Linked DNA regions of Homo sapiens. The protein of the gene in region 1 purifies or fractionates together with the protein of each later gene. This does not show direct contact. Each region holds a gene or a part of one and is shown on either strand. Other genes may lie near its edges.

The links. The genes of interacting proteins can lie anywhere in the genome.
Region 2: the proteins of PNOC (region 1) and WDTC1 purify together in Homo sapiens (co-immunoprecipitation; 2 studies listed by BioGRID and IntAct, with this or other methods). This does not show direct contact.

What each region holds. Positions count from the first base shown.
Region 1 is NC_000008.11:28,337,683-28,341,334, forward strand, and holds part of PNOC (prepronociceptin isoform 1 preproprotein), read left to right. Parts: intron 1-964; exon of another isoform or gene 965-1,106; intron 1,107-1,357; coding exon 1,358-1,762; 3' UTR 1,763-1,809; intron 1,810-3,652.
Region 2 is NC_000001.11:27,286,580-27,290,231, forward strand, and holds part of WDTC1 (WD and tetratricopeptide repeats protein 1), read left to right. Parts: intron 1-1,094; coding exon 1,095-1,282; intron 1,283-3,652. UniProt on the Homo sapiens protein: May function as a substrate receptor for CUL4-DDB1 E3 ubiquitin-protein ligase complex.

The DNA.
Region 1 (3,652 bases):
CGCCATTCTCCTGCTTCAGCCTCCTGAGTAGCTGGGACTACAGGCGCCCGCCACCACGCCCAGCTAATTTTTTTTTTTTTTTGTATTTTTAGTAGAGATGGGGTTTCACCATGTTAGCCAGGATGGTCTCGATCTCCTGACCTCGTGATCCACCCGCCTCGGCCTCCCAAAGTGCTGGGATTACAGGCGTGCGCCACCGCACCCGGCCTACACTTCCATTTTTATGTCGTCAGCTACTTATGGCTCCAAGGAAGCTTGGGAAACATATACGTTGCCTTTAGGAATAAAACAGTGTTCTGTGCATAAGGAGAAGGGGAGATGAATACGGGCCAGTTGCAGCCTCTGCCCCAGAAGGTGACCTGGAAGCCAGGCAGGAGCTCCACGCTATGATGAGGAGCTCTGCCTACTGACTCACAGCAGTAAGGTCAGGTTGAAGTGGGGTTTCCAGCCGGCTAAGGCCAGAAACCTGGACTGAAATTAGGGGTGAAGCCAAAACAGCAAATAGGAAGAAAAGCTGGGGGCAGAGGCTTCCAGGAGACCCAATCAGAACCAAGAACGTGGGAGGTGGGGGGCCAAGGTCAGAACCAGCCAAGAGGGGCTGGAGAAACATCGTGGTCCAGCTGGTGGCTAGAAGTCAGGGTTGGCAGGAGAGGCAGAGCAGAGTGTTCCTAGGAGCCGAGCGGGTCTGCTGGGCTCTGGTCTGATGATGGCATCTCTCCCCACACCTGGAACTGGATCACAGGTTCAGCCCCGCACGTCCAGCCGGCCTACCACCCCACAGGGTCTTGACCCCATTTGCTATAAATGATACACAGATAGTGACGACTGCTGTACGCGGGATGAAAAATTAACAACACCTAGGTAGATCTTTACATGGTGACCTTAAAATAAACCTGCAGATTTGACTACATACTTTCACATCCCCAATTTCTTTAACCCATGTGACCTCCCACAAGCCTGAAGAGAGAACAAAATAAAATTCTTTATGGGTGACAGTCATGAGCTGTGCTTGGCTCCAAAAACCCGACTAAAGATGTAACAAGGTGCGGTGTTGGGCGCATTTATCCTGTGTTAACTTCCTATGTTAACGTGCTGTGACACCAGAGGTAAGTTACGCTCACCTCTCTGAGCCCTGGTTTCTTTGTAAAATGATGGAGCTGGGTCAGATGATTCTCTGTTTGTTTCCAATTCTGAAATTCTACGAACCTAAAACCTGTGTAAAACTGCTCCACGTTACTTGATAACTTAGATGCTTCAGAAGCACTTGCACTGGTGCAGTGGGCCAGATCTCCTCCCTCGCCCTGGATTAACAGAGGTCCTTGTTCCTTCTCCCCTCCTCTCACCCGTATCTTTGCAGGTGTGCATCCTCGAGTGTGAAGAGAAGGTCTTCCCCAGCCCCCTCTGGACTCCATGCACCAAGGTCATGGCCAGGAGCTCTTGGCAGCTCAGCCCTGCCGCCCCAGAGCATGTGGCGGCTGCTCTCTACCAGCCGAGAGCTTCGGAGATGCAGCATCTGCGGCGAATGCCCCGAGTCCGGAGCTTGTTCCAGGAGCAGGAAGAGCCCGAGCCTGGCATGGAGGAGGCTGGTGAGATGGAGCAGAAGCAGCTGCAGAAGAGATTTGGGGGCTTCACCGGGGCCCGGAAGTCGGCCAGGAAGTTGGCCAATCAGAAGCGGTTCAGTGAGTTTATGAGGCAATACTTGGTCCTGAGCATGCAGTCCAGCCAGCGCCGGCGCACCCTGCACCAGAATGGTAATGTGTAGCCGGAAGGGGCGCTCCTCCCAGCTGTACCGGCCACTGCAACCCATGAGTGAGTTGGGCACCAATAAGCTGGGGGCAAGGAGAGACCTCACACACCAACTGTCTTAGCCTTGCTCCCAGGCCTAGAAGCACATTCATCTCCCCGCCCCCTCCCCACTCCACACACACACACCCCGCAAGGAGTCCAGCCCACCCTTTCTCTAGGCAGCAGATTTTCCTATGATTGCACCTTGAAGCTGACCACTTCCGGCTAGAGACTGGTTACCATGGGGATAATAGTAGTATGTTAAGATAACTAATTCCTCTATCACTCCCCAGGAGCTTAGTTACTATGGGGACAGTTAAGTGGACCAATACGCCCATCCAGTTGCCACAGCAACCAGTCAGCTCACCTTTCCTCGAGATTGTCTCTCTAAACACCAAGAGTGGGACCTACTCTTAGCCATTAGCAGAGTCCAATTACCACAGCTATGATGGTGCTATTTCATCTTCAAAGACGGCTTACCTATCCCCTCTCCTTTCCCCAGCTCTCAGGGTGCCTGGCTCCATGGAAACATTAAAGTTTCCCATTTTACCTGGACAAAGAGTTCCTGTTAAGATTAGGAGTTGTGGTTTCTGCTCTTCCTCCTTCCACAAGCCATTTGTCCATCCTGCCACCTTGCCAGAGAGGGACTGATTCCTTGTGGTCAACGGTATCATTACTGAGCAAGACGTGGAGAATTTGGTCCAATGGACCTAGTAGCTACTAGAATATGGACTAAAGGGGTTCATCTTCTTTCCTCCATTTGGCTTCTTTCCAGCGTGCCATTTTTGTTTTGGTTTTGTTTGCTTGCTTTTATTCCTCTCTTTCTTCCTTGTTCTCTCTTTCTTCTGCTCTGTTCCTATACCCACAGGCACCTTATACAAGTCCACATGTCTCATAATATACATCAAATACCCTAACTGATTGCCTGTTCATTCAAAACCCAACTTTCCTTAGGATATCAACCAATACATCACTTTGAGTGGCATTGGCAACCTAGCACAGTAGAATTTTCTGAAAATTTAGGAAACTCCCAACCATCAAGGCTATGTGCCTTAATTTGTATATGGGAATATGATCATCTGCAGAGTCCCATACGTCTCCTTAAATAGCTAAGAAACTTGCCATATTCATCCATTTTGCATTGCTACGAAGGAATACCTGAGGCTGGGTACTTCATAAACAAAGTTTATTTGGCTCACGTTCTGCAGTCTATACAAGAAGCATGGCACCCGCATCTGCTTCTGGTGAGGCCCTCGGGGAGCTTTTACTCATGGCAGAAGGCAAGGGGAGCTGGCGTGCCACATGGCAAGAGGGGGCAAGAGGGGGAAAAGGGGAGGTCCCAGCCTCTTTAACAACCAGATCTCCCACGAACTCATTACCATAGGGTGGGCACAAAGGCATTCCTGAAGGATCCACCCCCATGACCCAAACACCACCCACTAGGCCCACCTCCAACATTAGGGATCACATCTCAACATGAAATTGGAAGAGGACAAACTTCTAAACTGTATCATTGTCCTAACACAAAGAACCAGTCAGATCATCAAAATCACCCCAAAACATTACCCAAGTGGGGCTTTTCCCTGAGTCCGAGCATAAGAGAAAAATGTCTGCATGTGCTATTTTAAGTTGCGTCCCATGTGTCAGAGGTAGCCGTGTCACTAATAACCTTCCTTGATGATCTATTAGTACATATGCTAATGTTTGGTGCCCACACTTTAGCATGGAGACGGCCCCTTTGCAGGTAGGCCAACATGTTCACCACGGGCCTGTTACCAAATATGGACACGTGTATTAAGTTGTGAAGAGAAAGCTGATGTGTTTATTTTAGCAGGATGACTCATCTCCAAAGGCCCCAAATTAACCT
Region 2 (3,652 bases), on another chromosome or scaffold:
CTGCCTCAGCCTCCCGAGTAGCTGGGACTACAGGCGCACGCCCGGCTAATTTTTTTATATTTTTAGTAGAGACGGGGTTTCACCGTGTTAGCCAGGATGGTCTGGATCTCCTGACCTTGTGATCTGCCCGCCTCAGCCTCCCAAAGTGCTGGGATTATAGGCATGAGCCACCACGCCTGGCCTGGATTATTTCTTGGAAGTGGAAGTTTTGAGTCAAAAACTAGAAATTGTTTTTAATCTTTGTTACTATTACCAGATTGTTTTTCAGAAGCAGTCAAACTAATTTAAAACACTCACTCCCAACAGGGCATTCTGGCTCATGCCTACAATCCCAGCACTTTGGGAGGCCAAGGCAGGTGGATCACCTGAGGTCAGGAGTTCGAGACCAGCCTGGCCAACATGGTGAAACCCTGTCTCTACTAAAAATACAAAAATTAGCTGGGCGTGGTGGTGCACACCTGTAATCCCAGCTACTCAGGAGGCTGACACAGGAGAATCGCTTGAACCCGGGAGGTGGAAGTTGCAGTGAGCCGAGATTGCACCACTGCACTCCAGCCTGGGTGACAGAGCGAGACGCTGTCTCAAAAAAAAAAAACAAAAAAAACCCACACACACCCATTCCCTTAAACACTCAAAGTCTTTTTCACTTCAGGACTAATTTATTACTTAATCTCTAGGTTACTAAGTAGTCATAATGAGGCAAGTAGGGCATGTGGGAGTCAGACAGACTTGGGCTTGAACACAATCTTGCTGTATATTACTGCTGAACCTCAAGGGTTTGTTTTGTTTTTTGTTGTTGTTGTTGTTTTTGAGACAGTCTCGCTCTGTTGCCCAGGCTGGAGTGCAGTGGCACAATCTCGGCTCACTGCAGCCTCTGGCTTCCTGCAGCCTCTGCCTCCTGGGTTCAAGGGATTTTCCTGCCTCAGCCTGCTGAGCAGCTGGGATTACAGGCATGAGCCACCGCGCCCAGCCTGCATGGGCTCATTCTCTTATCTGACATGGAGAGAGAAAAGGGTGCAGACATCCAGGCTAGCCTCCTTCCGTGGCCATTTCTACTCTTACCACCCACCCCTTCCTCCATTTCTCCTATATAGTTCCTGCCTCACGCTGGGGACCGCATCTTGATCACGGGGGCAGCCGACTCTAAGGTGCATGTGCACGACCTGACAGTAAAGGAGACCATCCACATGTTTGGAGACCACACAAACCGGGTGAAGCGCATCGCCACAGCGCCCATGTGGCCCAACACATTCTGGAGTGCTGCTGAGGATGGGCTTATCCGGTAAGAGTCTGGGGCATCTAGTGGAGCCTGTCGCTCCCCCATCCCATCATCCTATAGTGTTTCCTTCTACAGACCTAGCTCTTTCCCTCCAGCAGAGGTCCAACCTCCTTTGTCTGCCCAGGGCAGTTGTCTGTGTACAAACTCCACTGGGAACATTTGCTTACTCCGCCCTCACCTTCCTCCCTCTTTGCCCTCCTTTGTACTACCTCTAGGCCCACAAGCTTTTTCTCACCACCTCAGGTGTCCAGGGTCTCTACTGCCTCTGGGCATTCACGTTACTCTTTCCTCTACTTGAGATTCTCTGTCCCCAGCTCTTCCCATGTCGGACTCTTTCTTATCCTAAGGAGATCAGCTTCAGTTACCTCTTCAGAAGCACCTTCTCTGACCATCCTGTCTAAAGTAGACAGACGTTATGCTTGTTTTAACAATTATATCCTCTGTAACTCTAATTGCCACCTGTAGTTATTTTTATTAATTAATTAATTTTTATTTATTTATTTTTTTTTTTATTGATCATTCTTGGGTGTTTCTCGCAGAGGGGGATTTGGCAGGGTCATATGACAATAGTGGAGGGAAGGTCAGCAGATTAACAAGTGAACAAAGGTCTCTGGTTTTCCTAGGCAGAGGACCCTGCGGCCCTCTGCAGTGTTTGTGTCCCTGGGTACTTGAGATTAGGGAGTGGTGATGACTCTTAATGAGCATGCTGCCTTCAAGCATCTGTTTAACAAAGCACATCTTGCACCGCCCTTAATCCATTTAACCCTGAGTGGACACAGCACATGTTTCAGAGAGCACAGGGTTGGGGGTAAGGTCACAGATCAACAGGATCCCAAGGCAGAAGAATTTTTCTTAGTACAGAACAAAATGAAAAGTCTCCCATGTCTACTTCTTTCTACACAGACACGGCAACCATCCGATTTCTCAATCTTTTCCCCACCTTTCCCCCCTTTCTATTCCACAAAACCGCCATTGTCATCCTGGCCCGTTCTCAATGAGCTGTTGGGTACACCTCCCAGACGGGGTGGTGGCCAGGCAGAGGGGCTCCTCACTTCCCAGTAGGGGTGGCCGGGCAGAGGCACCCCTCACCTCCCGGACGGGGCGGCTGGCCGGGCGGGGGGCTGACCCCCCCCCCACCTCCCTCCCGGACGGGGCGGCTGGCTGGGCGGGGGGCTGACCCCCCCACCTCCCTCCCGGACGGGGCGGCTGGCCGGGCAGGGGGCTGACCCCCCCACCTCCCTCCTGGACGGGGCGGCTGGCTGGGCAGAGGGGCTCCTCACTTCCCAGTAGGGGCGGCCGGGCAGAGGCGCCCCTCACCTCCCGGACGGGGCGGCTGGCCGGGCAGAGGGGCTCCTCACTTCCCAGACGGGGTGGTTGCCGGGCGGAGAGGCTCCTCACTTCTCAGACGGGGCGGCTGCCGGGCAGAGGGGCTCCTCAGTTCTCAGACGGGGTGGTTGCCAGGCAGAGGGTCTCCTCACTTCTCAGACGGGGCGGCTGGGCAGAGACGCTCTTCACCTCCCAGACGGGGTCGCGGCCGGGCAGAGGCGCTCCTCACATCTCAGACGATGGGCGGCCGGGCAGAGACGCTCCTCACTTCCTAGATGGGATGGCGGCCGGGCAGAGACGCTCCTCACTTTCCAGACTGGGCAGCCAGGCAGAGGGGCTCCTCACATCCCAGACGATGGGCGGCCAGGCAGAGACGCTCCTCACTTCCCAGACGGGATGGCGGCCAGGCAGAGGCTGCAATCTCGGCACTTTGGGAGGCCAAGGCAGGCGGCTGGGAGGTGGAGGTTGTAGCAAGCCGAGATCACGCCACTGCACTCCAGCCTGGGCACCATTGAGCACTGAGTGAACGAGACTCCGTCTGCAATCCCGGCACCTCGGGAGGCCGAGGCTGGCGGATCACTCGCGGTTAGGAGCTGGAGACCGGCCCGGCCAACACAGCGAAACCCCGTCTCCACCAAAAAAATACGAAAACCAGTCAGGCGTGGCGGCACGCGCCTGCAATCGCAGGCACTCGGCAGGCTGAGGCAGGAGAATCAGGCAGGGAGATTGCAGTGAGCCGAGATGGCAGCAGTACAGTCCAGCTTCGGCTCGGCATCAGAGAGAGACCGTGGAAAGAGAGGGAGAGGGAGACCGTGGAAAGAGAGGGAGAGGGAGACCGTGGGGAGAGGGAGAGGGAGACCGTGGGGAGGGGGAGGGGGAGAGGGAGAGGGAGCTAATTAATTTATTTTCTGAGACAGGGTCTCACTCCATTCTATTGCCGAGGTTGGAGTGCAGTGGCGTGATCATGGCTCACTGCAGCCTTGACTTCCTGGGCTCAGGCGATTCTCCCACCTCAGCCTCCTGAATACCTGGGACTACAGACACGCT